Linked DNA regions of Homo sapiens: regions 2, 3, 4, 5 and 6 are each reported to be linked to region 1. Evidence: microRNA targets listed by miRTarBase, many of them from high-throughput screens and not tested one by one. Region 1 holds a microRNA gene; each other region holds the end of a gene's coding sequence.

Region 1 (5,000 bases):
AAGATTCCTTGGGCTTTGCTCACAGATTAATTCTAAATTTGAAAAAAAAAAGTTTATCACTTTCTAAATATCACTTATGTAGTCAGGTATTCTTTGCTTGCCAAGAAACTGCTGTAGTAGGATCCGTTTTCAGTGAGATCCTGGGTTAGACCCAGTTTCCTGGATTCCTTACCTTCCTATATCCTGATTAACAATCTCAATTGGTCATATCCTTAGTCAATTTCTAGTAAAACTCTGCGTGGTAGGTAAATTTTATGTTCTTTCACATTCACAGGTATTTTTATTCTTTCTCCATGCCTGATTGTGACTTTGAAAAGATCTACATTTATTAATAAAAAATAATTTTCCTTTAGAACTTCAAGGACTTTCTCATTATCTTAATAATAGAAGTATTTTTTTTGTTGTCAGTTTGTTTCATTTTGGTTTCCGCCACTGGAATATTTTATGACTTTTCTATAACACCTGAAGTTCTGAAATTTTGAAAATGAGATATTTAGAAGTGAGTCTGTTAATTTTGCTAAATACCTGACAAGACTATTCCATGGAAGAATTAAATCCTTTATATCTGGAACATTTTCCCTTATTATTTGTTCTGATCATTTTCTCCCTTCATCTTCCCTGTTGGTCTCTCTAGCTTTGTCACTTGATGTTTGACTTCCTTGGTCTGTTCTCCATCTTATTTTTTCTACCATATATTACATTTTTTTTTTGCCTTTTAAATTACTGTGAGATTTTCTTGATTTAATTTTCCAATCTTTCTATTAAATTTTCCAATTGTTTTTAGCATTCTATTATTACTTTTACAGATCAAGAATTCTAATTAGAATGACTTTAAACTTGTTTGCTGTTACATGAACTTTCTCTATTAAATCTGTGATAATTTTCATGTTATTTTATTCTCATCTTCTCTTTCATATTGTAAGAGTTTCTCAAACATTTGCTCTGGCCTCTTCAACCTTGTCCTTTACCTACTGTATACCACCTTATTTCATCTCAAGATACATTTCTTCAAGCCACTTCTAAACTGCCCCAAACCATACCTGGTCCCTGTGCAACACTCTCTCATTTTACCTCATTCTTTTTCTTTATAAATGTTTCAGACCTTGTAACTATGTTTGTGGAATTATGTAATATATGTATTTTCCTCCCACTGGAGTGTAAGTTCTATGAAGATAATGAATGTAATTGTTTTCACATTATTTTAATAACATTCAACAAACTATGAGTACTTATTGTAGCACTGGTACTCAATGACCATTTTTGCATTTTTGATGAATTAGTGAATATATAAACAAGTCTGGGGGCTTAGTCCAGCCAATAATAAAGCAAGCATTACTTTGCTTTCCTTTGTTATTATTAGTTCCTGCATACACATTCTTTATAGTTGCATTCCTGAGAGGTTCTTACAGTCTTGGGCAGGCCTTGGACAGGGTTTCCTAAATGTGATAAAAATGAGAAAAACTGAAAAACTAACATAACTTCAAACAGAATGCTTGTCTGCCTATGTTTATGGGACTTTCCTGAATACATTTAAAAAAAAAACCTTTGTATTACAGAAAATTTCAACTGTGTGCAATAGTACAGAGAAGAATTCCATGTATCAACAGCCTTGCTTTAACAATAATCAATTCATGAGCAATTTTGTAAACCCACCCAGTTATCATACAGGCACATACTGGATTATTTTGAAGATATTTTTAGGTATCATATTTCATTTATACATTTTTATTATGAAAATCTAAAATATAATGGCTTTTTAGAAACATAACAGCAATGCCACTAACACATTTAAAACGAGATAAATAATTCCTTAATACACTCAGTGTCAATTTTTCTGATTGCCTCATATAAATTTTTTAACAGATGTTTTGTTTGAATATGAATCTAGACAAAGCTCAGCGTTTGGTTACTATATTTCTTCAGTCTTTTTCAAGTGTATAGCTTTTCTTTTCTCTATTTTTAACTTTTTTTGCAAATTGTTTGCTGGAGAAATCTTTTTATTTAATCTAGTAGAACTTCTCATATTCTGAATTTTGTTGCTTACATCCTTGTGGTGTCATTCATCATGGGATTTTGTCTTGGACTCCAGAAAATAACAATAACACAAATTTGTTAACTTCTATAAACTGCTTACTATGGGCCAGACTGTGTGTGAAGTGCTTTATTTGTAATGTTTAATTCTTCATATCTCTAGTTTGTATGTGGTAAGTACAAACCTGAAATATTTTACGTGATTTTTACGTTTTGTAATTTTTATTTATTTATTCATTTATTTATTTATTTTTAGAGACGGGGTCTCGCTGTGTTGCCCAGGCTGGAGCGAGTGCAGTGGTGCAGTCAGTCCTAGCTCACTGCAGCCTCGAACTCCTGGGCTCAAGCAGCAATCCTCCTGCCTCAGCCTCCCTACTAGCTGGGACTACAGACTGGTCTCCATCTCCTGGGCTTTAAGGGACCCTCACCTTGTGCTGAGATTACAGGCATGAACCATTGTGACTGGAAATTTTGTAAAATTTAAACAATGTGATATTACCTATTAATGAAGTCATACTTTATGTATGTAATCTGAAATAATTCAGATAACAATTTTTAAGAATCATTTAATTTAAAATCATGCAGCCTGATTTATAACTGTTTATAATAATAATATAATAATATAATAATGATGATTTCACTTTGAACTTTTAGCTGATAAAAAGATATATTTGCTCTATTTTATAAAACTAATTTTAGCTATGCTATTTTAACATTATATAAATACTTTTTGAATACATTCTTTCAGTAAAATCCAACTACCATTATATTTGCTTTCCTCAGTATTTCTTGGGGAAGGATTCTAAATAGGGGAGCATTTGTGTATTTCTGTATGACTCTGGTTATAATGCCATTCAATGTAAGCCTTACACACACACACACACACACACACACACACACACACACACAAATGCACACACCTCCAGAATGCTGGGTTCTTGGCTCATGAATCATTGAAATTTATATAAAATTTATTTTAAATCCTATTGCAGAAAAGTTCTTAGCACATTCATGCATTTTCATGTGACCATTTTTATACTACAGTTTTAATTTTATATATTTGGGATCATTATTGTTGACCTTTTCTTTTCTTTTTTTTTAATAGAGTTTATTTTAGAGAAGTTTTAGGTTCCCAGAAAAATTGTAGAGTACAGATAGATGTATCCCATATGCTCTCTGTTCCCACACATGCATAGCCTCCCCCACTAGTAACATCCTTCATGACAGAGGTACATTTGCTACAACTTATGAACTTACACTGACACATCATTATCACCCAAAGTCCATAGTTTATATTAAGGTTCATTCTTGGTGTTGTACATTCTATGGATTTGGGCAAGCGCATAATGATATTTATTCACCATTGTGGTATCAAATAGAGTAGTTTCATTGCCCTAAAAATCCTCTGTGTTCTGTGATGGACGTTTTCATGATCACCACTGGTTCAGATTCCCTGCACTTACTAATTCCCAGTCTGCATTTATAATTATTTTCTCCCGGAGTCTCCCCACCTCCTCCCCAAAGTAAATATGGATAAACTGCTGTTGCATATAATTCACCTTGACTTAAAATTTATGGGACATAAGGAGGGAATATACCCCTTAGAGAGTTAAAAACCGAAGTCAAATATTACAACTTCTTGTCCTAAGAGTTCTCTTAGCAACCCAATCTCAGCCTCTCAAGAAAGAAAAAAATCCTCCAGTTAACATATGAAAAGAAACTCACTTTTACGTCTACGCTTGAATCTCCTAAATCACTAAAGGGCTAAGGAAAACAAATGTACTTTTCATATAATATGATCCATTCTTTTTAATAAATCCATTATAAACATAACTGCAGTGTTTTCTTATATATTTATATACTACGTGTAAGGCACTGTCTATATACCAAGATTATTCAAATTCTGTCAATAACTCTGCAAGGAAAATATTATCACTCCCACATTGTGGATGAGAAAAATAAGGTTCAGAAATGTCAATCAGATACTTTACCCAGTAAAGTTTAAAATACTAGCTTCAAAATACTGAGTCAAGTATTTGGATTTAGGTTTCTTTGTACAAAACTATGCTGTATCAATTATTATGTTAATGTTTTGTCTCTTTTTTTTCTCCTATTACATTTTAAACTCACTGATGCAGATAGCATGGACAGAAATATCCTGGCAGATTTCATAGCTGTTTAGAGCTCTCAGGTCCCTGTGGACCCATTTCCTCTGAGAGATTTTCTATTAGGAGACCACGAATCCAGTGTAGGACACAGCACCCACTACTGCTGCTACATTGTCTCAACTGTCTTGTTCTTCCTAGGATTTCTCTCTCATAGGCTCATGCTTTCCTTAGCCAGGAAGGGGGAGGAGCAGGGGGCTGGGGCCCCTAAATGGGTCTGTAGCTTCTACTTCTATCTGTTTTCCATTGTCACTAACCCTAAGTAAGGAACAAGCATTTGTTCCTTTTCAGATACCCCCTTATATTATTGCCTTATTTTAATATTTTTCTTTTTTAAAAAATTTATTTATATGTATTTATTTATTTTTGAGATGGAGTTTCATTCTGTTGCCCAGGCTGGAGTGCAGTGGCACAATCTTATTGCAACCTCCACCTCCCAGGTTCAAGCGATTTTCCTGCTTCAGCCTCCTGAGTAGCTGGGATTACAGGTGCCCAGCACCATGCCCAGCTAATTTTTGTATTTTTAGTAGAGACAGGGTGTAACCACGTTGGCCAGGCTGGTCTCGAAGTCCTGACCACAAGTGATCTGCCCACTTTGGCCTCCCAAAGTGTTGGGATTATAGGTGTGAGCCACCGTGCCTGGCCTTATTTCAATGTTTTTCTAACTGGCTTCCATTTCTTTTCCTGCCTAGAGAATTTTTATCTCCTCAAGGTGAGAAGGGGAGAGGAAAGCTTCTACTGTTGTCATTCTTCACAAATTTAAAGTTTTGAGAATGCAGTTTGACTTTTGGTAACAAAATTTTT
Region 2 (5,000 bases), not on the chromosome of region 1:
CCTCTTTTGCCTCCCAAAGTGTTGGCATTACAGGCATAAACCACTGCGCCCGGCCTCCTTAAATATAATTACTATAATTTCTTTCTTTTTTTTTTTTTTTTTTGAGATGGAGTCTTGCTCTTGTTGCCCAGGCTGGAGTGCAATGGACCGATCTCAGCTCACCACAACCTCTGCCTCTTTCTTAATCAAGCGATTTTCCTGCCTCAGCCTCCCTAGTAGCTGGGATTACAGGCATGAACCACCACGCCCAGCTAATTTTGTATATTTAGTAGAGATGGGGTTTCTTCATGTTGGTCAGGCTGGTCTCGAACTCCCAACCTCATGTGATTCGCCCTCCACTCAGCCTCCCAAAGTGCTGGGATTACAGGCGTGAGCCACCGCGCCCAGCCATATAATTTCTAAACTGGTCTTCCTGCCACCGGTTTCTTCTACCCCATTTCCATCTACTATAGTAAATACATAATACATTTGATCACTGCCTTCTTCTTAAATCCTTTTACAGTTTGCTATAGATCAGCATGTTTTAAAAACATTTGTATTTGAGTACCTTTAGTTGGGACTGCGCTGTCCAGTCTTCACTGTTCCCATTACCTTACATAGCTGGGATGTCACCTATCTTATCTGCTAGGACCTTCAGACACTTAAGATTATCCACTAGATCAATGTTTTTCAAACTTCCAGACACACACCCCATTAGTGGATGTGAAACTGAATTAGTAAATCACAAGGAAATTTGAAAAATGCAAACCAAAACTGTGGGAAAGAAAACAGGAATTAAAGGCCAGGCGAGGTGGCTCATGCCTGTAATCCCAGCACTTTGGGATGCCGAGATGGGCGGATCACCTGAGGTCAGGAGTTCGAGACCAGCCTGGCCAATATGGTGAAACCCCATCTCTACTAAAAATACAAAAAAAATTAGCCAGGCATGGCGGCGGACACCTGTAATCCCAGCTACTCGGAAGGATGAGGCAGAATTGCTTGAACCCGGGAGGCGGAGGTTGCAGTGAGCTGAGATCAAGTCACCGCACTCCAGCCTGGGTGACAGAACAAGACTCTGTCTCCAAAAAAAAAAAAAAAAAAAAGAAAACAGGAATTAAGAGTACATAGCACATATTGTCTTGTGAAACTTGTTTTATGTATTGTTTAATGAATCATGGTATAAAATTATTCTTACTGATCATTATAAACATTTTTTGAGGAATACTCCTCAGACCCTAAGGTTTACAAAGTTCAAATGTTAGATAAGATTCTAATTATATTCCTCTAGTATCTTTCCAACTGTGATCCTTAGTCTTTTTCCTCATCTATAAAACGGGAATAACAGCAGTCTCTATCTTACTGAGTTGTGAAGATTAAGGAAGCACTTAAATAAGGGATTAAGGGGCTTAGGGTAGTGCCTGGCATAAGGCAAGTGACGTTATCTTTGTGGGCTATTTTCCAACTCACTCCTATCCCCATTCCTAAACATGCTATGTTCTTCCTGACCTCCATGCCATTTGTATGTGCACAGGGAAAATCCACTTAAGACTTTTCTGGTGATTTCTCCAGAAATCCTTTCCAATTTGTCCATTCTGGTGCAGATGCCTCGTTATGTCCCCAAAGCAACTTGTGCTTCCATTTATTATATAGCACCTATACACTATACCATTTTCCTTTCTCCTTCACTAGATTGAGTCCTCTTATGAAATGGGTAATTTCATTCATTTAGCATCCCCAGTACCTAACCTGACAAATACCAAGTATCAAAGTGTTCAACTGAGTGATGCTGTTTTTTTCCCTTTCCCAACAGTTGTTAGCCCTGAAGATCTGGCTACCCCAATAGGAAGGCTGAAGGTTTCCCTTCAAGCAGCTGCTGTCCTCCATGCTATTTACAAGGAGATGACTGAAGATTTGTTTTCATGAAGGAACAAGTGCTATTCCAATCTAAAAGTCTCTGAGGGAACCATAGTAAAAAGTCTCTTATAAAGTTAGCTTGCTATAACATGAATTTGGTTTACTGTGATGTCTAGTGTCTCTCAATCTAATGATGAAAGTTTAGAATGATGAAAGTTTCATTTGTAAAACTAGCTAGCTAAAGGCATTTTTCTCCAGTACCTTAGCACTTTACCAGGCAGGAAGCAGGCTTGCTTTCAAGAACTGAAAATGAACGGTCACAGGTGAATTTACAAAAACAAACAACAAAAAAAACCCAGTTTATTCATCTTTTAGTTCTTCCAAAATTGAAAATATCAAGTCCTACTGCTAAGGAGAAAAAACAAACAAACATAAAATCCGGGACCCCTCCCCCCTTCTTCTCTTAAAGTCACAGAGCACGGAAGGAACTGCAGTGGGACAGGTGGGTGCAGAGAACCAGAAGGGGAGGATGGCAAGATAAACTCCCCAAATACTTGAAAAGCTGTTCAACAGAAACTGTGATAAATACAGGACAATGCAAGACAAAGTTAAAATAAGGAGCAGCAGTGCCGAGAGGCTGTGTTGTAGATATGGCCTCCCTTCCTCTTCTCTTTTCTCATCAGGGTATTCTAGGCCCAAGGCATGACTTGTCCCTTCCAGATATAAATGTTGACTCCTTTGAGCCTTCCTCTACATTTCACTAGAAGCGGTACATGAGGCACAACCTGATATATCTTCCTTAGATATATGAGAAAAAAAAGAAGACAGTGGCAATTTTGCCTTCTATCATTGTACCATGTGTGCATTGTATGGAGAAAATAACCGAGCCAGGGAGTATCACTGCTTCTTATGTCTTCCAAGGCAGCAGATATACCTCAGAATCTGCACGAGGCAGGAAAGCAGGAAAACTCAGACGAAGGCACCAGCCCAATCTGCCTCACTGGCTCAAGCTGTATGGTTTATCACAACCATTAGCAAATTTCCGAGAACCTTGAGTATTGCAAAGATAAAACTTAGAGATGTGCGGAAGGTCATGGCAGTAGGGTAGGTTGGAGGATTGAATGTGCTGGTCAAGAACCATGATACGGGTAATTAAGGGTCACCTTGTACCACTGTCTTGGAAATACAGCTTTGAGACACCAAATAAGATGTCAGAAGCCATCAATGTCTTGGCAGAAGGTGACAGGAAGAGAGAAGAATGAAACAATATTTATTAACAGCGGGAGCCTCCTCCTGTCTTCAAGAACACCTCCTCCCTTGCCATCTGAATGGGGCCATTGGCACGTGTCCTGGTGGGCCTGGAATTCCCCGAGTAGATTGGTCCACACAAATGGCCCCCTAAACCCATAAACACAAATGGCAAAACTTCAAATGAAAACGAAAGGAAAAATACAGTTTCTATGTCATGTAAAATTTTCAGGGGTTGGCTGGAGGAAGAATGGAGCTCAGGGCCAAAGTTCAGAAGTTACTTCCTCTTTTTCTTGGGGGGTGCAGAGCTGTGTCTGGAACCACGGTTAGAGCCACGGCCCGAACTGTGCACAGATGCCTTCCTCTTCCGGCTCATACTTCGACTTTGTTCTTCTTCTTCCTCGTAACGACTTTCTCGGTCCGCTAAATAGAAGAGGCATTATTAGTTAGCAATAGGTAAGCTTTAGGTACCTAATATTACTGGATAGCATGAGATAGTACAGAGAATACACTTTGGAATCAGACCCAAGTTTTAATATTGGGCAAGTACTTTCTGAACCTTGGTTTATTTACAAAAGGGAGAATTATTTAAGGGTTAAATAAGGTAACCTATGAAAACTACCTATTCCCAATGCTTGGAACACAGCAGTTAATATTTATTTCCTTTTAAGCTTTAAAACGTTTGTTTGGGGTTTGGCTTCAGAGTAACTAGATTAGCATTATAAAGACATGCCTAACCTGGAAGAAGCCTAGAAAATTAAAGTATTATAGGATTTAGGTTTGGAAACTGAGTAGGCTAATTCTTGAGTATTACATGAATATGTGGCTATCATGGCTATAGGAAAGATGGGGGCTTGCGCAGATGAAAACAGCATCCAGTTTGGCAGAGCACTGCCCACTGGAGAGTATGGACACATTCCACACCTCATTTTCTCCTTCAGTCAATGAAGTTGTATCTGTGGCTCCAAAGCACTTTTATAGTGTTCTTTTGTTACTTTCATTACGCCATCAATACTAACACCTCAAAATATTGAAATGTGTTAGAAATTTGTGCGTAGACAAATGAATAAAAAACAACACATTTTTAAAAACCTTTTCGGGCTTCTTCCTCCAGTTCATCCCAATCCTTTCCACTCTCTTCTTCACTACCCAATGACTCCTTAGAATAGTCTGGAAGAAAATTAATTAAGCGTTAGTCATCATGCGGGAACAGAATGGAACGACAGAGTTCTTAGTCTAAAAAAAGTAGTTTTCAGAAATGACATTAGATTAGGAAGCCAGGACGAACTTTGCTCTGTAAGACTAACCTGACTCTTCTGCTTCTGATGAATAATCTTCATCACTGTCCTCCTCTTCCTCTTCATAGTCATCTTCTGAAGGATTAAAAGTCTCATCTTCAATTTCAGACTCTGAATCCCCTTCTTCAGCATCACTCCCCTGGTGAGTTAGAGCATAATACTGATTTTTTTTTGACATTTACCTTATTAACTTAATGAATTAATTCAGCCCACATAGTATACCAGTATTTACATGAAGAAAACAAGAGCAAAATAATCTGAGGGATCAAGAGATAAAATGACTTGTTTAAAATTAGTGGTCAGGTGCAATTATTATTTTACTATTATTATGTATTATTACATTTCTGAAAAATTCACGTTAGCCTTCCTCACCCAGGGAAATTAACAACAGAAAGACTTTCTGTATTTACGTATCACACAAACGTTAAGTGGATCATTTTTTAAAAAATAATTTTTGCAAAATGCCCTGAAGGATTTTTCCCTAAATGCTAAGAAACTCATTGAGGAAAAGTTTTTGTAATTTCCAAGAAATCTTGTCAGGAGTTAGTTACCACTGCCCAATCAATTTATCAATTTGAAGAAACAATAATATCAAGTGGTGTTTAGAGCTTCTCCCAGATG
Region 3 (5,000 bases), not on the chromosome of region 1:
TTAGTGGAAGCACCCTCTATCCAGTATCTAATATCCCACGATCTAATGTGACCCCCTTTGGAAGTCCAGTTACCCCAGAAGTTCATGTTTTCACAAATGTTCACACAGACGCATGTGCCAACAACATAGCTCAAAGAAGCCAATCAGTTCCATTGACAGTCATGATGCAGACAGCCTTCCCAAACGCTCTTCAGAAGCAAGCAAACAGTAAAAAAATAACCAATGTTTTGTTGAGTAAACTTGATTCCGACAATGATGATGCAGTGAGAGGTTTGGGAATGAACAACCTGCCCTCTAATTATACAGCCCGGATGAATCTCACTCAGATTTTGGAACCTTCCACTGTTTTTCCTAGTGCCAACCCACAAAATATGATCGATTCCAGCACTTCTGTTTATGAGTTCCAAACACCATCTTACCTCACCAAAAGTAATAGCACCGGTCAGATCAATTTTTCTCCTGGAGATAATCAAGCACAATCAGAAATTGGAGAGCAACAATTAGATTTCAATAGCACTGTTAAAGACCTGTTGAGTGGAGACAGCTTGCAAACCAACCAGCAGCTGGTAGGTCAGGGAGCATCTGATCTCACTAATACTGCATCTGATTTCTCTAGCGATATCAGGTTGTCTTCTGAGCTCTCAGGCAGCATCAATGATTTGAACACTTTAGACCCAAATCTACTGTTTGATCCAGGTCGTCAGCAGGGACAAGATGATGAAGCTACACTGGAAGAATTAAAGAATGACCCATTATTTCAACAAATTTGCAGTGAATCCATGAATTCTATGACTTCATCAGGTTTTGAATGGATAGAAAGCAAGGACCATCCTACTGTTGAAATGTTGGGTTAAATTGTGTTTTATAACATGTAGCACACTGTATCTAAAGACATATGTATTGTATTTGTCTTAATGGAAGTGCCTCCCGCAGCAGAAATACTATTAATTGTGACATTTTAAAAGCGTTTGCTGCAGAAGTGGTTTCTTCAGTAGGAAATGGTTAGACTTGCCTCAGTTCTTAACAAGTGTCTAAAGACAGTAGGCTGTAGAAGAACAAGTATTAGGTTTTAAATTTTATAATGTGCCCCATTTATTCACATTGATTGACTATCCAGCTGTTACAAGAGCAGTCGATCTTTATTTTGTGTAAGTTAGTTTCATTTCATCAGATGATCTGCACAGAACTCAGAATAAACCATCAATTTTAGGTATAGGCTGTTTTGTTGTTGGCATTATCTTTTAGATATAAAATCATAGCTAGGGTGAACTGTAGACAAGAAAGTCTTCCTTGAAACAGGGATAATATTCAGGTTATTATAAATATTTAGGCTTGAAGCATAGAGCTACTGTAGGGTGAAAAATCTCTGTAGGACTTTCTGGGGCTTCAGTACCATTTACACCCACGATGAAGGGCTTAAATAGAAAATAATGGAAAATTAAATATTACTTTAAGGAAAGCAAAGCTGCACTAAAATTTTTAAGGGAAAAAAAACAAGTAGCCATTTATATTTGTGACCTTGCATTAATATTTAAATGTTGATTTTAATATGGAGCTAGCACACATAGATGCGCAGGCACGCACACACAAAACAAGCAAATGTAACTCCAGGCATTTGTAATTTAATATAATAAATACAAGCATGTTAGAAAAATGCTTTATGTCTTATTATTTGTTAAGTTAGGGGAATGAGAAGGAAAACAAAAGCATTCTCTTAGTTTCATCACAATGGCTGCATGTACATATTGAGATTCTAACTGAGATTTACTTTGAAATTTTTCATTAAAATATTCCACAATAATCAGTTTTTTTCCTCTTCAATTGAGTGACTGACTCCCTCACTCCTCCTGAATATAGTAATGTAGTTTGATCATAGGATCCCTTTGAAAAACAGGAAGGAGGATAACATAAAAAACAACAAAAAACATTTCACCACCTAAGGTCTGAAGCCACAAATCTTTATATCTCTGATGAAACAAAGGGGATATCAATAGTACTTGAAGAAGAAGAGCATTTTATTACTTGCTTAATTTATTTATTGTGATAACCACAATTGCAAAAGAAGAACTCAGGATTTGTTTTAAAATGTTTCTCTCTATGGCTCCCATTTTGTTTTGTGAATAATTATTTATGAGTTGCATGTTGACACAAACCTACTCACTGGTTGAAAGCTCCATTTAAGTGAGTTTCAAGATCACTTTCAAAGAGATTTTTAAATTGCCATTGTTTTTAAAGCTAACATAAAACCATTTGCTATGCTACCTTGAACCTAGCTAAGCTTTCCTTTACCTTAGTAAGCCAATCAGAAGACTACAATCAATGAATATTTAGCAAATGTGCTGAAGGGTTTAATAAGGTTTTGTTGTTCAATAAATTTGCAAGGTAGGGTATTAACATATTTTGATAAATAAATGGTGCTAGAGTTGGCGCAGAGGTTTATATATTGATATGTCTTAGTTATTGGCATTTGTGTGTGTTTGCTGTTATCTTGATTTCATGATTTGTTAGGTATTTTTTTCTTGATGCTAGTTATTTCTTCACTGTACATTGAGACACAGCACTACTGCACACCAAAGTATGCAATACCCAAAGGAAACTGTGTGATTTCTCCTGACAAATGATGGGAGCCTTTCTTTATGAGATACTCTGAAAAGGAGATTTTGAGGCCATTCTAATCCCTTGTTTACATTATTAGCTTCCTACTAATATAAAAATAATGGAAATCTTTTTTGATAAAAATATTAAGACTGGAGGATTTTTAACCCCTTGTACAGTATTGCAGCAAACTCTTTAAATTTGGTTGAATTCGTCCAGCAAACTTTCTGGGGTTCATATATTGCACTAAATTTGTTGAACCTGTGGTAGGCACATCTCTTAGGATAAATGCAACCAATACAGTCCACAGATTAAACTTTTTAAATGTGTTTCATTATGAAAAGACAAAATGTCATCAAAGTGACAGATAAAATTGTCTTATGTAGCAATGTGCATTGATCTCAATGAGATATTTCTATTATTCTCTTACATGAGAATATTACAGCAGGAAGAATTAAGTTTAGTTTGCTTCACCATGTTAATACATGATCACAAAATGTGCATGAGTGTTATTGACTTATCTTGTACAGTACTAGGATTCCTGTAACCACTCTTTTTTTTCTTCGCTGTATTGAAACTGGTTCAGTGTTAACCAGGCAAGCATAGTTATTCACAGGTTATTTACTTTATGTTTACTAATTCTGCTTAGTTATTGTTGAATATGTTCTGTTCCAGATTATTTTTATTGTTTTGATGTTTAAAACATTTTGCATACTGTTTATCATAAAACTTCATGAAGTAAATAATTTTGCATATAATTGCAATAAGCACTGACTTTTGAACTGAAAAGAAGGAAAGTGTTTTTTTGTGCAGTGCTTCTGAGGTTCATATAATAGTCTTGTACTATAATGTGCTTTACTACACGATAAATGACAAAAACAAGCCCTGTTTCATGTTTCATTTAGTGCAAAAAGTCAGATTTCCCCAGTGTTTTGTTGTCTGTTGTACCTGCTGAAACTACAGTAGTTGAATATTGCGGTAGCATTTCAGTTCTCTTTTTTTATTAAAGTGCTCAAAAATTGTTTTTTAAATGTTTTCAAAAACAATTAAAAACATTTTATATTAAACTGACTGGATCTGAAGGTGTTTTATGGGACATATTTTATATAGGCAACACATTTTGTAAACAGACCCAATGTTATTCTTCCTTTGATGTCATTAACTTTAGGGAGTGAATAAAAATGAGCAGAAGGCAGAACAGTGCTGCTGATCTGCTGTGTGCTATTAATCCAGAAGAATACACAGATCTTAGTTCATTCATCAAAACTCTGTTGTTCACTTAAGATTATTACCAATGAATGGTGCATGGCATAGAACTTTATGTTGTCCAAAAAGCCATCTTTTTCTCTTTCACATAGTGTTTAAATGTTAGCCTATGGAGTACCTAGGTAAGTATATTTCTGGAGCTCTGAATAGAAAATGAGAAAATTTTAAGCATAGCTGTGTTCAAAAGCAGTATAGACATTTCCAGGTACCAGAAATAACAAACTGATAAGTGTAATGAATTTGTAAGCCAGAAGCTGGGCTACAGGTCTGGAAGCAGGCCGAAGTAGCCAGAAATGTCAGCTCCTGCAAAGTAATGAAACCAGGGTCTTGAATGGAGTTTCCTCACTCTTGAAACTGAGAAGCAACAACAACCAGTGCCAGGGACTATATATTGTAGACAGATCTTCTCAAACAGCCTACTCCTCTGTTTACATAGATCTTTGTAGATCTGTGATAGTTCCACTATCACCATAGATCTGGAGCCCTCAGTTTGAACAGGTGGTAGAAGCAATTACAAAAGGAAAGGAGTGGAGATTAGGAAGGGAGAGGTAAAGAGCAGGAAGGCTCCCATGAAAGCTGAGCCTGCAGATCAAAATTCAAAAGTACTTGAAGAAAAACTAATCCCAAGAAAGGCAATCAGTCACTCAAGAGAAAATGAAAGTAATGAACTACCTAGATAATACTATAAAATTAGTATGTTAGGATCCTCAGTGCTCAATGACATGGAAGGGTAAAATGTCAGAGCAGGCAAACATAAGAACCAGTGCATAGAGTCAACCAGTAAGAAATTCTGGGGGTGAAAATACTGTGTAACACCTGAGGTGATTTTGGTTTCAAGTAATTGAAAACCCAACACTGGCTTAAACCATAAGGACACTTACTTTTAGCTTAATAATAGTGGAGATAGGAGGTTCAAGGGTTCATTCAATGGTTCATTGTTTACAGGCACCAGATCCTGTTTGTGTTTCTGTTCCATCATCTTCAGCTTTGCTTTGCTGTGTCTATTACCTCATAGTCACAAGATGGCTGCCACAGCTCAGATGTTATACCCTCATAACATCCCAAGCAGGATAGTAAGAGCAGTTCTTAGCCTTTTATCAGAGAGAAAAAAAAATCTCAGAATCTTCCATTAAGCACTC
Region 4 (5,000 bases), not on the chromosome of region 1:
TCAAGAAATACAGGATCAACTTACAGCTACTATAAGATGTACTAAGGAGATGGAAGGCGACACACAAAAGTAAAATTTGAAGCAGCACACAAAATAACTTGAGTATTTATAAAGCAAAAGAGCACTGTAGTATGAAAATTGTATCAGTTATGATAATTAGTATGTCTTTGTGAAGCCAAAAAAGTTTCATTTGTAAGCTATATCGAAATACATCATTTTTCTACATTATTCCTAAATTTTGCATATTATCACCAAAACACAGGTAGAAAATGACACAGTAGCCCAATCGTCTACTTTTGTGATTGCTAAGAATTTGTGTAATTATACCTTCAGAAGTTTGTTTAGAATTTACATGATTTAAAAAAAATTACGTGTGAGAGTAATTATTTTAAAATGCACATTTTAGGCTTGAAGTAGAACATGTGATGATGAGAAAAATTATTAAAAAACAGGATGACCAAATTGAGCGGCTTGAGAAAATCCTGCAGCATTCAAGTTTGGTAAGCTGATCTCTTAATTTCTGTCATACTGAAAAGGAATTTTATTTTTCCAGTAGGATGGGTTAAATATCCCTTGTCCAAAATGCTTGGGACCAAAAGTAGATTTTTTTCAGATTTTGGAATATTTGTATATACCTAATGAAATATCTTGCGGATGGTACCTGAGTCTAAACATGAAATTCATTTGTGTTTCATATATACCTTATGCACATAGCCTGAAGGTAATTCTCTACAATGTTTTACAGTAATTTTTTGCAGGTAAGAAAGTTTTTACTGTTTTCCCCAGAGCCTGTCACATGAGGTCAGGTGTGGAACGTTGCAGTTGTGGTGTCATGTCCGTGCTCAAAAAGTTTCAGATTGTAGAGCATTTTGGATTTCAGATTTTTAGATTAGGGATGATCAATCTACAGTACAGATGCTCCTTGACTTACAGTGGGTTTACATGATAATGTCTCTTGTTTGACTGAAACATTATAAGTAATATTTGATTTATTTCAGATGCTGCAGGTGTTTGAGAGCTAGATGAAGGTATGTTGCCAAAATTTATGAATTAAATTCAAATCATTGATTTCTGAAATAAACTCTAAGTAGTGAACGGTATTCCCTCTCAATTGCTTGGTTAATAAATGCTACATTAAATATTTTTTCTTACACACATCTAGTGAAAGATGTGAAAACATAAACATTCATAGTGAAGGGTATACTTATGCTTTGTTAATTCATCATGTTTCATAGCTTTAAAAAAATCGCAAGAAATCTGTGTATCCCTTTTTTTCTGGCCCTACACTTTTCTTCTGCCACCCCTATAGACTATCAGCCTGCACACTGAAACTGTTCTCACAAAACAAAGGCATTATCAACTTCTCAAGGTTAAGGTAGTGATTTAAGGCTAACAGACCCCACACTCATGTGATAATAATTAGTTAAGCAATTACAGGTCACAAGCAGTCACTTGACCAGTGACATTTTAAATCTCTAGTCATTGACTTTGTCATTGGTTTACTTTTGCCCCTGGGAAAAGTTGAAAATTCCTTAGCATGGAATCAAAACTCTCACATCAGTGTGGTTCTTGTCAAGTTATTCAGCCTTATCTTTCGCCACTTACCATACTCTACACCTTTGTTCTAGCATCCAGCCAAACTAGACTACATGGAGCTCCACAGTGATCGTCTTCACCTCCAGCTGTTTGCATTTACTTCTTCCCTCTATCCTACATGTGTTTTCCTTCCCCTTCAGATATCAACCTATGAATTGCCTCTACCAAAAAGCCTACAATATTGACACAAACCTGGGCTAGTATCCCTTCTATGTCTTCCAATAAGTGCTGTCTTATGCTTGTCATTGTATGTATGACTCTGTATGGGAATTGCCTGTTTGTTTTTTCAGATTATAGCATACAGTTGTTGAGGGGCGGACCGTATCATCTTTATCTTGTAATTCCAGTGCTTGTCCTAGTACCTTAGCACATGGTTGCTGAATACATGAACGAAGAGTGAGAAACCAGAAGCTCTGATACTTAACTGCCATGATAATGAATTCGGTGTGCAACTATGGGCAAATTATATTTAATAGTAATTGCATATTGTACATATTTTTCATTCTTATTAACACTGATAAGCTTTTCAGCATATACTGACTTTCTCTTAGTTAACTGTGAAATCATTTAGATAAAGAATATAATTCTTTTTCATTCTAACTTCTGAATTTAAATCTGAATCCTCTATAGCAGGGGTCCCCAACTCCCAGGCCACACACAGTTCCATGACCTGTTAGGAAGCAGGCTGCACAGCAGGAGGTGAGTGGCAGGCAAGCGAGTGAAGCTTCATCTGTATTTCCAGCCACTCCCTGTTGCTCACATTATCACCTGAGCTCTGCCTCCTGTCAGATCAGCAAAGCCATTAGATTCTCACAGGAGTGAAAATCCTACTGTGAACTGCTCGTTCAAGGGATCTAGGTCACATGCTCCTTATGAGACTCTAATGCCTGATGATATGTCATTGTCTCCTATCTCTTCACGATGGGACCATCTAGTTACAGAAAAACAAGCTCAGGACTCCCATTGATTCTCCATTATGATGAGTTGTGTAATTATTTCATTATGTATTACAATGTAGTCATAATAGGAATAAAGTGCACAATAGATGTAATACGCTTGAATCACCATCCTGAAACCATCCCCCAAACCCCCATCTGTGGAAAAATTATCTTTCACAAAACTGCTGCCTGGTGCCAAAAAGGCTGGGGACTGCTGCTCTATAGCTTCTGCACTAGAATCTACTAATGAGTAAAATTTAAATCAATAACTAGTTTTAAAAGCATAACAAGAATATGTGCTGTCTGGCTGCAGTGGCTCATGCCTGTATTCTCAGCACTTTGGGAGGCCAGTGCAGGTGGATCACTTGAGGTCAGGAGTTCAAGACCAGCCTGGCCAATATGGTGAAATCCTGTCTCTACTAAAAATACAAAAATTAGCTGGGTGTGGTGGTGCATGCCTGTAGTCTCAGCTACTCGGGAGGCTGAGGTGGGAGAATCACTTGAACCCGGGAGGCAGAGGTTTCAGTGAGCCAAGATCGTGCCACTGCACTCCAGCCTGAGCAACAGAGTGACTCCATCTCAAATGCAAAACAAAACAGAAAGAATACATGCTGACGAAAAAAATCTAAGACAATAAAATTGTATTACTAGGCTGTTAACATGATATTTTGTTTCCCGTTAAATGTGTGACATGCAAAAGTATTTATTAAATGAAAATATTTTTTATCTTTTATGTCTGATGAAAATTTATATCGTGTTTTAAATGATGTTTCTTGGCCTCTTTAACTTTTTATTTTTTTATTATTTTTTTTTTGAGACGGAGTCTGGCTCTGTCACCCAGGCTGCAGTGCAGTGGCGAGATCTTGGCTCACTGCAAGCTCCGCCTTCTGGGTTCACGCGGTTCTCCTGCCTCAACCTCCCGAGTAGCTGCGACTACAGGTGCCCAGCTAGTTTTTTTTTGTATTTTTAGTAGAGATGGAGTTTCTCCCTGTTAGCCAGGATGGTCTCCATCTCCTGACCTTGTGATCTGCCCACCTCGGCCACCCAAAGTGCTGGGATTACAGGTGTGAGCCACTGCACCGAGCCTGAAAATCTTACTACCTAAATAACTTCCCACTCCACTCACACCCACAATCTTTCTATAATCCACATTCTCTCCTGAGACAAGAGCTTGGGAAGTTCCGTCTTGCTGAGGGAACTTTATATTGTTCAGGAATTCTTTAATAAGGTTTTACATAGTTGGGGAAACCAGGGAAAAGCAGGTTTGTCACTGCTTTGCTGAGGAGCAGACTCACGTGCCTTGGAAGAATTTAGTAAACCTTCAATAGATGGCCTAAGATACTAACAGGGGCCATCTCATTAAGCTACACAGTTATTTATAAATGAAAGTATAATCTAGAACTTACATGTCAAAGTCTTCCACTAGAAAGATGGCAATATTTGACTAAAACTGCAAAGTTTGTCCCAGTTGACAAAACTCTAATCAAGCCCCTGCCCTTCTCATTCTGTTTTTCCTTTTAAACTTTTTCTTATATTTTAATTTTTCATTTGACAAATGCATATTTCCTCTTTATACCATGCTTCCAAGTGTCACTCTGATACATACCTTCAATGAGCAGACACAGGATTGTGGAGTTTGTTGTGGACACTCATCCCATGAATAGGGAGACTCCGATAACCTGAACAGACGGCTCTAGAAAAGAAAGGAAACTTTCTTTTCCTTCCATACAGAGCTTCCCCCCATTATTTCAGTGTACACAAACCAACATCAGTTCTTTAACACAAAAATAAAAATACTCAAGATCAAGCAATTGTGAGGGGAATCATCTTTCCAGAAGTCAATTCTTCTAGCGGCTACCTTCAGCATATACAACTTGAATAAAAAGAAGTTGGTCAAACGAGTAAAACTTTCCCACCTCATTCCAGTTCTATCTACCCATTGACAACACCTTCGGTCTTCTCACAAATATTGAGTAGAAACACTGCCAACTCTTCACCTTTATCTGGCTCATTCCCAGAGCCAGGAGAAGATGTGACTTATTTGGTGGATGGGAAATCTTATCCATTGGTCCCATCAAATCCATTGGTCCACGTTTGCCTATTAGTAAGGCAAACTTACTCAGTGATCAATGAGTACATCTAGTCTCTCTTTCTCCTCTGGATTCTGAACAGGAGACTTGGAAGGCAGGTGAAGACCCTCCCTGCACTGGGTGGGTAACTGACTGTTCTTCAGATGAACTTTTTTTTGTTCAGGTTCTAAAGTCAAGGCTAGGGGGCAATATTAGAAGTCTTTTTTGGTCAACATTAAGCCATAGTTTCTAAATCAGCTTTAGGAGGAATAATGTATTTGGATATTGATCTGACCTTTTGTTTTTATTTCTAAGTTGGTTTGGCACTGAAAAAGGAGAGGTTTGTTATCAGTCCACACCCCTAATGCCCTGACATCCATGAATCCGTTTTAGTGGA
Region 5 (5,000 bases), not on the chromosome of region 1:
GCTATTAAAAAATTTCATGTTGAATCAGAATGTAATGCTTTCTGTGAAAGGAATTACAAAGAATGTCCATACAGTGTCAGTTGAGAAATGTTCTGAGAATGGGACTGTCGATGTAGCTGATAAGCTAGTGACATTTGGTCTGGCAAAAAACATCACACCTCAAAGGCAGAGTGCTTTAAATACAGGTATTCTTTTCAAGTGTTATTAATAACAGATGTTAAGTGTGAGGAATAACAGATAATCAATTTAGTTGACTTGACCTTTTCTCACTTCCCATGCCATACTCTCTCCTCCTCCTCCACAAATCCAGTGGCAGGGTTCTGATTCCTGTGGCTGCCTGGGAGGGCCGCCTTGATGGAGGCAGTCCTCCGAGTCCAGATAGTCCTTAGATCAGACTTGTCAGCACTGCTGTGGGAATTGACACCAAGAGCTTTGAAAATGCCAGGCATTCTGCGTGCTTCTTATTTCCAATTTACTTTCTATCCTGATCAAACTGAGAAGTCATATTTTTGAGATTCCATCTTCCTGGTACTTCATAAGATGTATATTTGACAGACCTGGCCTCAATCAAAAAGAGAGATGATTGACAACCAAAACCTTGGAGACATGGGTTGTTAATGTGGTCAAATCCAGACCATGGTAGTAGATAATCTCAAAGCCCAAATGGATCCATCCAGGTCTTTGTAGTCGGAACCCATGCGCAAGGGGGAGAGCTATCTGTATATGTTTACACTCCCAAGTTTTTCTTCTTTACATTATGTGTTATCTAATGGCTTATTTTTCTTGTGCTTTTAGAAAAGATGTATAGGATGAATTGCTGCTGCACAGAGTTACAGAAACAAGTAGGTAAAATTTCCTTTAAGTGAAATTATACTCCTAACGTTTTTAGAAATTAAATCATATGGTTTCTTTTTCACCCACAGGTTGAAAAACATGAACATATTCTTCTCTTCCTCTTAAACAATTCAACCAATCAAAATAAATTTATTGAAATGAAAAAACTGTTAAAAAGTTAAGTAAGTTAAATCGTATGTTTTCGCCTCTTCTGTGATCACCAATAGGACATCTTCAGGCATATTGGCAGGATAGAGCTAATGGAGTGAAACCTATTGTAAGGCTGTACTTTCGTGATTTAATGACCTGAGGTTTGGTCATAATGCTTCTGCTGTTTTTGTAGGTTTATCTGATCGTTTTCCTTTGCTACTGCTAATGGAACTGAACCCCCAGGGGTATTCCAGTTGTAATAGCCTTTCCTTACTGTTGTTTGGTTCTGTGAATGCCTATGTTATTGATATGTGGAGGGACTTGTAAAACTTGTTGTGACATAAAGCTTAGCCTCAGATTTTTTGTCTAGATCTGAAATTAACTCAGAGCTCACTTATGCACATTGCTGTAAATATGTTTAGCACTTTTTGCGAGGGGTATCTAAAGGGCCAAGAACGGAAAGTGGATCTAAAGGGCCAAGAACGGAAAGTGGGCTGCACTGAGGGTATTTTTCATTTAAAAACAAAACATACTCCCTGCTTTTGGCTGTGGTGATTCTAGTGTCTAAAGAACATACTGGTGAGTTTTAAACCAGTGTTCCTCCCCACCCCACCCCCATATTTTAAATGTCTGGGATCCTTTGTTGTAAGATGGTTCTCAGAAATAAATTTTTGATTAAGAGCCAATTAGAACTTCTGATCAGGGCTGGGGGTGGTGGCTCACGCCTGTAATCCCAGCACTTTGGGAGGCTGAGGCGGGCAGATCACCTGAGCCCAGGCGTTCGAAGTCAGCCTGGCCAAGATGGCGAAACACTGCCTCTACTTAAAATACAAAATTAGCTGGGCATGGTGGTGCACACCTGTTAACCCAGCTACTTGGGAGGCTGAGACAGGAGAATCGCTTGAATCCAGGAGGCGGCGGTTGCAGTGAGCCAAGACTGCTATTATACTCCAGCCTGGGTGACAGAGTGAGAGTTTGTCTCAAAAACAAAACAAAACAAAACAAAAAAAAAAACAACCTCTAATCTCAGAATAAAGTTGTCTCTCCTCACCACTTTGAGTTGTTACAGTTCCAGCCAAAAGCAAAGGAACTTTGATTTACTTAATATGTGCACTTTTGTTGGTTAACAAATTTATATTAAACTGTTTGGAAATAGTTCAAGAGGTGGCTATAATACTCTTCATGAATCTTTTATGGGTGTAGTAACTCTCAAGTAGGAACCAACTGCCAACTGTGTTAAAACATATCTTTCATGTGGTAATAGACCGTTTCTTTGCGTTTTAAGAAAGGTCAATTGAATTATAAGCTAAATGTAATTAATGCAAGATCAACTATCTTGACTCTCATGTTTCCTTTTACAAATTTTGGGTTATTACAACTTTCAGTCCTTTCTAATACATTGTCTTAATACTGACTGTTTTGTATGTTTAAGCTTAAAATCTTTTAATCTTTTTTTTTTTTTTTTTTGGAGACGGAGTCTTGCTCTGTCACCCAGGCTGGAGTGCAATGGCGTGATCTCGGCTCACTGCAAGCTCCACCTCCCAGGTTCACGCAATTCTCCCACATCAGCCTCCCAAGTAGCTGGGACTACAGGCGCACACTGCCACACCCGGCTAATCTTAAACTTAATGGTGATTTTAATTTCATAGATCAAGGAACATGCAATGACATGGATTTCTGGAATTTAGTCCTAGTATCAAGTCACTATATATATATATATTTTTTTTTTATTTTTTATTTTTATTTTTTTTTGAGACAGTCTCGCTCTGTTGTCCAGGCTGGAGTGCAGTGGCGCTATCTCAGCTCACTACAACCTCCGCCTCCCGGGTTCATGCCATTCTCCTGCCTCAGCTTCCCAAGTAGCTGGGACTATAGGTGCCCGCCACCACACCCAGCTAATCTTTTTGTATTTTTAGTAGAGACAGGGTTTCACCGTGTTAGCCAGGATGGTCTCGATCTCCTGACCTCGTGATCTGCCCTCCTCGGCCTCCCAAAGTGCTGGGATTACAGGCGTGAGCCACTGCGCCCGGCCACCAAGTCATTACATTTTTAACCAAGTTGGTTGGCCTGTATGTTCTTCTTATCTGTGTAACAGGCATTTTTCCTAAGGATATTGAGTGTGCTTACACATAAAACTTAAAGTGAAATTTCATTGTTTCTTGATAGATTTAAGACAGGGCTTAGTAGCTTTCAAAAGAAAACTTGATTTAAAGCATAGTAGTTGAACTGGATTTTTCCTGACTGTGGGAATAAATAGATATTTTATTTACATTTGAATACAGTGCAATACCTTGTGTTTGGGTAGTACGTATTTACAAAGCATTTTTACATCTACTCACATACTTAATCTTCACAATGCCCTTGAAAAGAAAGTAGGACCCATTTTACAGTTAAGGAAGCTGAGGCTCAGAGAGGGTTACATGACTGTCCAAAATCACATACAGGCTGAAACACTAGGTCTTACGACTTAAAACAGTTGTGTCAACTTCCCTGAGCTGCTACGTGTACAGTATCCTTTTAGATCAGATCAGTTACATAGGGCATGAAACTAGAGGGTTACATTATTAGGAAAAAATAATGTACATGATTGCTTAAGCATTACTTCATTGTGGTGAAAATAGAGCTGAATATTTACTCCTTTAAATTATTCTTTGAGATAGAATGGGTGTAAAAATGTATTTTGGCTGGGCATGGTGGCTCAGGCCTGTAATCCCAGCACTTTTGGGAGGCTGAGGAGGGCAGGTCACATGAGGCCCAGGAGTTTGAGACCATCCTGGCCAACATGGTGAAACTTTGTCTCTACCAAAAAAAATATAGAATTAGCCAGGTGAGGTGGCGTGCACCTGTAGTCCCAGCTACTGGGGAGGCTGAGGCAGGAGAATTGCTTGAACCCAGGAGCCGAAGGTTGCAGTGAGCCGAGATGGCACCACTGCACTCCAGCTTGGGCAACAGAGTGAGACCCTGTCTCAAAAAAATAAAATAAAAGACAAACACATGTATTTCATCATCTGGAGAAATTTAATTGTTAGCAATTTAATTGTAAAATTGCTAAAACAGAAGTGCTGTGGTGATATGAACATAAAACCCTCTGTAATCTGTTGCTCAGGTGATGTTTCAACACACAAGTTAATGTCAGATATCTTTTATATATAAGGAGAGTGCAAACAACTATATGTTATATTTGTGAAGGGGAGTATAAACAGCTGTACTTAGCATATATTATGCTATGTTATGGTGGTCATTAATTTTCTTAACTGACAGGTCTGGCTTAAATGCGTAATTTCAGTTAAAAGTGAATATTTTGTTTGCTTGTATTTGAAATTAAAAGCCATAGCAATTGAGTTTTTGTGTAAGGCATAATGATAGTTGATTTTTTTTCTTTTTCAGAAACAGCATCTCTTGGAGGTAAACCCTTATGAGACAGGAAACAGCAAAGGCTAGCTTTAGGAGAGAAAGTACAGCACCTGGTGTTTTTATTTATGAGAACCTTTTCTTTGTCCACTTTCTCTGTAATGACCTTCTATCCCTCCGTTTTTGCCTGCCTGCCATTCTCCTATTAGGTTGGTGGTTTTTATTTTCCTCTAAGTTCCTTCCACCAAATAAATATTACGTAAAAAATTCATACCAAATCAATGAGAATACTGGCAAGGAATACATAGGGACTTTCTGCTATATATGTAACTTTTTATTACTTAAAGGTACCGAAGGAAGGCCAGGTGCAGTGGCTCACGCCCAGCACTTTGGGAGGCTGAGGTGGGAGGATCCCTTGAGGCCAGGAGTTCAAGGTTACAGTGAGCTATGATAGTGCCACTGCACTCCAGCCTGGGTGACAGATTTTGTCTTAAAAAAAAAAAAAAAAAAGTTGATATGAGTTTTATTTTCTGTCCGTTTGAAATATTTTGTAATATTCCCTGCATTCTCTGTCGTCTGCCTCTTCCACATAATGTCCTTTGCTTTCATGTTTGTTATCTTCTTTTTCTGTTCACTCAGAGGTCATCAATTTCTTTCTCTCCGTC
Region 6 (5,000 bases), not on the chromosome of region 1:
CAAGTCACTCTGCCGAGAAGAGTAAGCAGTGCTGGCTGGGGAAGCGTGGGTGGGGAGCCTGTCAGGCCCAGGCTTGAGTCTTGGCTCCGTCAACCTCTTGTTGCATGACTTTGGGAATGCAGCGCCCCCCGCTCTGAGACCTGGGTTCGAATCCTATATGGGCACCAACGTTGTGTGACCTTGGGCAAGTCGCTACCCCTCTCTGGGCCTCTTTCTCATAAGATGGAGATAGAGACGGTTCTGCCTTATCAAGTTGCAGAGGATGAAATGAGTTAATTCTCGTAAAGTGATTAAGATATGGTAAATGCCCCATAGGTCTTAGCTGTTATTAGGATTGCTTTCGCCCAGTCTAGAAGGCAGGGGTGATAGATGCACACAGTTTATTTAGAGCTAAAATGAGGCCAGGTGTGTGCTCCAACCTATAATCCCAGCACTTTGGGAGACTCAAGCGAGAAGATCGCTTGAGCCCAGGAGTTGGAGGCTGCAGTGACCTATGGTAACGCGACTGCACTCCAGCCTGGGCGACACAGCAAGACCTTGTCTCTAAGGAAGAAAAAGGCTAAAATGAGTTAATTGATGTGACTAGCTTAGGGCAGGCCCAGGCACAAATACCAGAATCCTCAGCCTCACAATCTAGTCTTTGGGTTCCGTAGAAAAGCGCTGGCTTTGGCCTGAAACCCAGGTCTGAATCCCAGGCAGGCCCTCGGTCGCTGTGCGGCTGCTTCACTATGCCCCTCCTTTCCCTGTCTGTAAAATGGGGCATGCGTGCTCAAGAATGGGCCTGATCTTGACAGGCCTGGGCTGAGCCCTGACTTTTCTCCCTCAGGGCAGAGACACCTGCGGAAGCCACAGGGAAGCCACAGAGAGATGAAGCCGGCCCACAGAGGCAGCTGCCAGCCCTTGATGGCAGCTTGATGGGGCCGGAGAGTCCCCCAGCACAGGAAGAGGAAGCCCCTGTATCACCCCACAAGAAGCCAGCCCCCCAGAAGCGGAGGAGGGCCAAGAAGGCACGGCTGCTGGGCCCCACTGTGATGCTTGGTGGATGCGAGTTCAGCCGCCAGAGACTGCAGGCCTTTGGCCTCAACCCCAAACGGCTGCACTTCCGCCAGCTGGGCCGGCAGCGGAGGAAACAACAGGGGCCCAAGAACAGCTCCTGAGCACCAGGGAGCAGGCAGGGGCCTCAGGCTCCTCTCCTCAAATCAAGCCCTGGACAGGTCTCGCACCCACAAGTACTATCTGCTGCAGAGATCCTCTCATCTGTGGCCAGGCACGCCTGTAATCCCAGCACTTTGGGAGGCCGAGGTGAAAGGATCACTTGAGCCCAGGAATTGGAGACCAGCGTGGGCAACTTAGCGAGACTCCATCTCTACAAAATGTGGTGACACATGCCTGTAGTCCCAGCTACTCAGGAGGCTGGGGAAGGAAGATCACTTAAGGCCATGAGTTTGAGGCTACAGAGAGCTATGATTGCACCACTGCACTCCAGCCTGGGCAACAAAGCAAGACCCTGTCTCTTGAAAAAAAAAAAAAAATTAAAAAACACGTGTAGCTGTGGGTAAGGAAGTCGTCCCATTTTATGGATGTGGAAACTGAGGCTGACTTAAACTTCCCGTGACTTGGAGCTCTCACCTCGAGACACCTCCCAGACCCCACATCCCCTCAGAACGCTGCGCCCAGCCACACCCACGATCAAGTTACACAGCTTTATTGGCCCCCAGCAGCCACAGTTCCCCCAAGGGGGCTTTGGGACAGGGAGGGCCCGGGCGTCCAGTGCAAACTACAGTACGTGAGTCAGGCCCTGAGGGGGGTGCCCGGGGTCCTCCTTCCCTACCCTGCCAGGAGGGCCCCGCTGGTGGGAGACAGGTGTATGGGCTCTGTGGGCTCTGTCCCTGGCTGAATGGCCCCAGACTGGTTGCAGCTGGGCTTGAGGGGCTGACAACAGGAAGTACCATCATCACTGCCAGAGCTCAAGATCCCACACCCGACATGACATAAATAAAAAAATAAATAGTGTTGTATCTTTCCCCTCATCCCCTCCCTTTATAAAAACACAAAGTCCTCAGAGCTGGGGCGTTTGGCCCTGAGGAGCCGCCCTGTGCGAGGGAGCCGGAGTGTGGGCTGGGCGAGCTGGGAGCAGAGGTCGTCCAGGCTGTGGTCCTGAGCATGGCCCTCGGCCAGGGTGAACATGGGGTACCGCTCTGTGGCTGAGGAGGAGCTGAGGACCTGGCGGGAAGAGGGAGACAGGGTCAGCCACAAACAGTGCCAAGCCATATTCCTTAGCCCAGGTTTATTTAGTAGGTGCTTCTCAGGACCACCTCTCCAGGAGAGAGCAGCCAATCAGCACCTTCCATCCCCTGGCCACAGTGATTGGCTCAGCCATGAGCATGTGACCCAGCTCAGCCAAAGACTGACAGTCCTGGGATTTTTGCTGCAAAACCTGCGTTTCCCTTCCAGTGACCACAGGGTGGGTGCCCAGAATGGCTGGTGGCCATCTCTCGCCCCCATAAGGGTAGAGTCCTGGTCGGACAGCAGGGCCAAGAGACAGGGAGGGTTCCCACCACTTGAGCCCCTGGATACAGCTGCCTCCAAGGGATGATGCCTTAACAGTGGGCTTTGGCGTTCCCACCTTTTCAGGGGTGGACATTCTTCACATTTCCCAGGTTAGGACCCCTAGCCTGGAAGCAGCACCCCAGCTCTGCTGGACTCGAGGCCTCTGTTCCTCTTTCACCCCCAGCCCTGCCCAACCGCCCCCCTCACCCCACTCCAGCTTTCCTCTTGCTCACCCTGGTCAGCTCTGAGCAGAGTGTCTCAAACTCCTTCCTGTCTCCAGCATAGAAGCCCACGGTACAGCTTGGGTCCATCTTGGCAAAGGCCATCTTGCGGGGCGAGGTGCAGTGGAAGGACTGGGGCAGACAGACGAGGAAGGCTCAGAGGCTGGGCTGCCCACCCGCCATGGCCCCAACCACACACTGGGGCTCCCACTCACCTCCAGGGGGAAGTCGGCCTGGCTGACATCCACAGTGGGCTGGCAGTAGTGAGGGTCCAGGTACAGCAGGAAGTCATCTGCAGGGGGTGCAGGTGTGAGTGGGGGTGCGGTGGGGGGTGGGAGGAGTGAGGAGGGGGTGGGCCTACCTTGGTAGCCAATGAAGTACAGTGAGTGTCGCGGTTTCCCACCCATGATGCCCAGGCACAGCTCGCAACGCAGGAGTTCCTGCAGGGAGGAGGGTAGGCAGGTGCTGTCAGGCAGCCACTCAACAAACGCTTGGCAAACACCTCCTCTGTGAGAACCCAGCCTCTGGAGGGCAGCAGTGATCAAGACCACAAAACCCTTGCCCTCAGGAGCTGACATCCTAGTGTGAGAGACTAACAAGGAAGATGATTACATGAATTTTTTTTTTTTTTTTTTTTTTGAGACGGAGTCTCACTCTGTCACCCAGCCTGGAGTGCAGTGGCCCAATTGGCTCACCGCAACCTCCGCCTCCTAAGTTCAAGCGATTCTCCTGCCTCAGCTTCTCAAGTAGCTGGGATTACAGGCACCCGCCACCACACCCGGGTTAATTTTTTGTATTTTTAGTAAAAATGGGGTTTCACCATGTTAGCCAGGCTGGTCTGGAACTCCTCCTAACCTCAGGTGATCTGCCCGTCTCGGCCTCCTAAAGTGCTGGGATTACAGGCTGGAGTGCAGTAGCACGATCTTGGCTCACCGAAACCTCCATCTCCTGGGTTCAAGCAGTTCTCCTGCCTCAGCCTCCCGAGCAGCTGGGATTACAGGCGCCCGCCACCACGCCCAGCTAATTTTTGTATTTTTAGTAGAGACGAGGTTTCACCATGTTGGCCAGACTGGTCTTGGACTCCTGACCTCAGGTGATCCACCTGCCTCCCAAAGTGCTGGGATTACAGGCGTGGGCCACCACGCCCAGCCAATTACATGATTTATCTCATGTGTTAGAGGTGATAACTATATGGAAAAGAATAAAAGAGGGAAGGGAGCCTTGTGATTTTAAGTAAAGAGGTCAAACATTACAGCTCTTTTAGAATTTGTCTCAGGTTTTCTGGTTCTCACTGGAAAACCCCCCACGCAAAAAATATTTTAAAACAGGAGCCAAGCAGTGGCTCATGTCCATAATCTCAGTACTTTGGGAGGCCGAAGCGGGAGGATCACGAGGTCAGGAGATCGAGACCATCCTGATTAACACAATGAAACCCCATCTCCATTAAAAATACAAAAATTAGCCAGGAGTGGTGGCGGACGCCTGTAGTCCCAGCTACTCGGGAGGCTGAGGCAGGAGAATGGCATGAACCCAGGAGGTGGAGCTTGCAGTGAGCTGAGATCATGCCACTGCACTCCAGCCTGAGTGACAGAGCAAGACTCCGTCTCAAAAAAAAAAAAAAAAAAAAAGCCACATGCATCACTGCTGAAAGAGTGCTCCAAGCAGCAGGGGCAGCAAGCGCAAAGGCCCTGAGGTGGGAGTGTCTGAAATAGGTGAGGAGGCCCCTGTGGCTGCAGCAGAGTGTGGGAGGAGGATATGAGGTCAAGGTGGGGGATATCCCGACATCAAGAAGGTGGTGTGGACAAATAGTGCCGGGCTCTGTGGGTCACTGGGAAAACTGGCTTTTATTCGGATGCAAATACATAGGGGACTTTCCAGCCTCAGGGTCTCTGTCTTGCTGTTCCTTTTGCCTGGAGCACTTCTCCTCTGGCTCCTCATTTGCCTGGTGGCTGCAGAGGCGCTTTTCTAGGCTCTGCTGCTACCCTCATCTGCCCTTCATTGGGTTACTGTTTTTTTAAAGTTGTGTAGAGGCTGGGTGCAGTGGCTCATGCCTGTAATCCCAACGCTTTGGGAGACCGAGGTGGGTGGATCACCTGAGGTCGGGAGTTCAAGACCAGCCTGGCCAACATGGGAAAACCCCATCTCTGCTAAAAATACAAAAATTAGCCGGGCGTGGTGGCATACACCTGTAATCCCAGCTACTTGGGTGGCTGAGGCAGGAAATTTGCT

The links. Region 1 holds the annotated microRNA hsa-miR-3135b (GGCUGGAGCGAGUGCAGUGGUG, at 2,313-2,334, shown strand). A microRNA usually pairs through its seed, bases 2 to 8, with sites in the 3' UTR of a target mRNA and lowers its output. Matches are read on the target gene's strand: a 7mer-m8 pairs with bases 2 to 8, a 7mer-A1 pairs with bases 2 to 7 and ends in A, and an 8mer does both.
Region 2: miRTarBase lists SUPT16H as a target of hsa-miR-3135b. Seed matches in the 3' UTR shown: 7mer-m8 at 3,320-3,326.
Region 3: miRTarBase lists RFX7 as a target of hsa-miR-3135b. Seed matches in the 3' UTR shown: 7mer-A1 at 2,810-2,816.
Region 4: miRTarBase lists ANKRD36 as a target of hsa-miR-3135b. The part of its 3' UTR that is shown has no 7-base or 8-base seed match.
Region 5: the mRNA of TDRD1 is a reported target of hsa-miR-3135b. Seed matches in the 3' UTR shown: 7mer-m8 at 1,933-1,939, 7mer-m8 at 3,919-3,925 and 7mer-m8 at 4,800-4,806.
Region 6: miRTarBase lists KRI1 as a target of hsa-miR-3135b. Seed matches in the 3' UTR shown: 7mer-m8 at 1,481-1,487.

Annotation. Positions count from the first base shown.
Region 1 is chr6:32,747,286-32,752,285 of GRCh38, reverse strand. MIR3135B (microRNA 3135b) reads left to right here and starts at 2,307; the gene lies at 2,307-2,374.
Region 2 is chr14:21,349,315-21,354,314 of GRCh38, forward strand. SUPT16H (SPT16 homolog, facilitates chromatin remodeling subunit) reads right to left here. Exons shown (of 26, transcript NM_007192.4): 24 at 4,389-4,518; 25 at 4,174-4,251; 26 at 2,162-3,504. The coding sequence ends at 3,359. RPGRIP1 (RPGR interacting protein 1) reads left to right here. Exons shown (of 25, transcript NM_020366.4): 25 at 1,790-1,987. The coding sequence ends at 1,902. Among named protein-coding and RNA genes, the nearest start is that of SUPT16H, 32 kb to the right of the region's middle. RefSeq lists a silencer at 1-37 and an enhancer at 2,670-3,869.
Region 3 is chr15:56,089,199-56,094,198 of GRCh38, reverse strand. It overlaps RFX7 (regulatory factor X7), which reads left to right. Exons shown (of 10, transcript NM_022841.7): 10 at 1-5,000. The coding sequence ends at 854. Among named protein-coding and RNA genes, the nearest start is that of NEDD4, 98 kb to the right of the region's middle.
Region 4 is chr2:97,249,146-97,254,145 of GRCh38, forward strand. It overlaps ANKRD36 (ankyrin repeat domain 36), which reads left to right. Exons shown (of 76, transcript NM_001354587.1): 73 at 1-69; 74 at 407-500; 75 at 999-1,028. The coding sequence ends at 1,022. Among named protein-coding and RNA genes, the nearest start is that of ANKRD36, 140 kb to the left of the region's middle.
Region 5 is chr10:114,227,115-114,232,114 of GRCh38, forward strand. It overlaps TDRD1 (tudor domain containing 1), which reads left to right. Exons shown (of 25, transcript NM_001395205.1): 23 at 1-185; 24 at 796-842; 25 at 924-5,000. The coding sequence ends at 1,016. Among named protein-coding and RNA genes, the nearest start is that of VWA2, 9.6 kb to the right of the region's middle.
Region 6 is chr19:10,550,108-10,555,107 of GRCh38, reverse strand. It overlaps KRI1 (KRI1 homolog), which reads left to right. Exons shown (of 19, transcript NM_023008.5): 18 at 1-21; 19 at 827-2,023. The coding sequence ends at 1,157. It overlaps ATG4D (autophagy related 4D cysteine peptidase), which reads right to left. Exons shown (of 10, transcript NM_032885.6): 7 at 3,133-3,211; 8 at 2,987-3,063; 9 at 2,784-2,903; 10 at 1,690-2,223. The coding sequence ends at 2,041. MIR1238 (microRNA 1238) reads right to left here and starts at 2,986; the gene lies at 2,904-2,986. It also overlaps the pseudogene RNU7-140P. RefSeq lists enhancers at 679-758, 789-838, 859-1,028.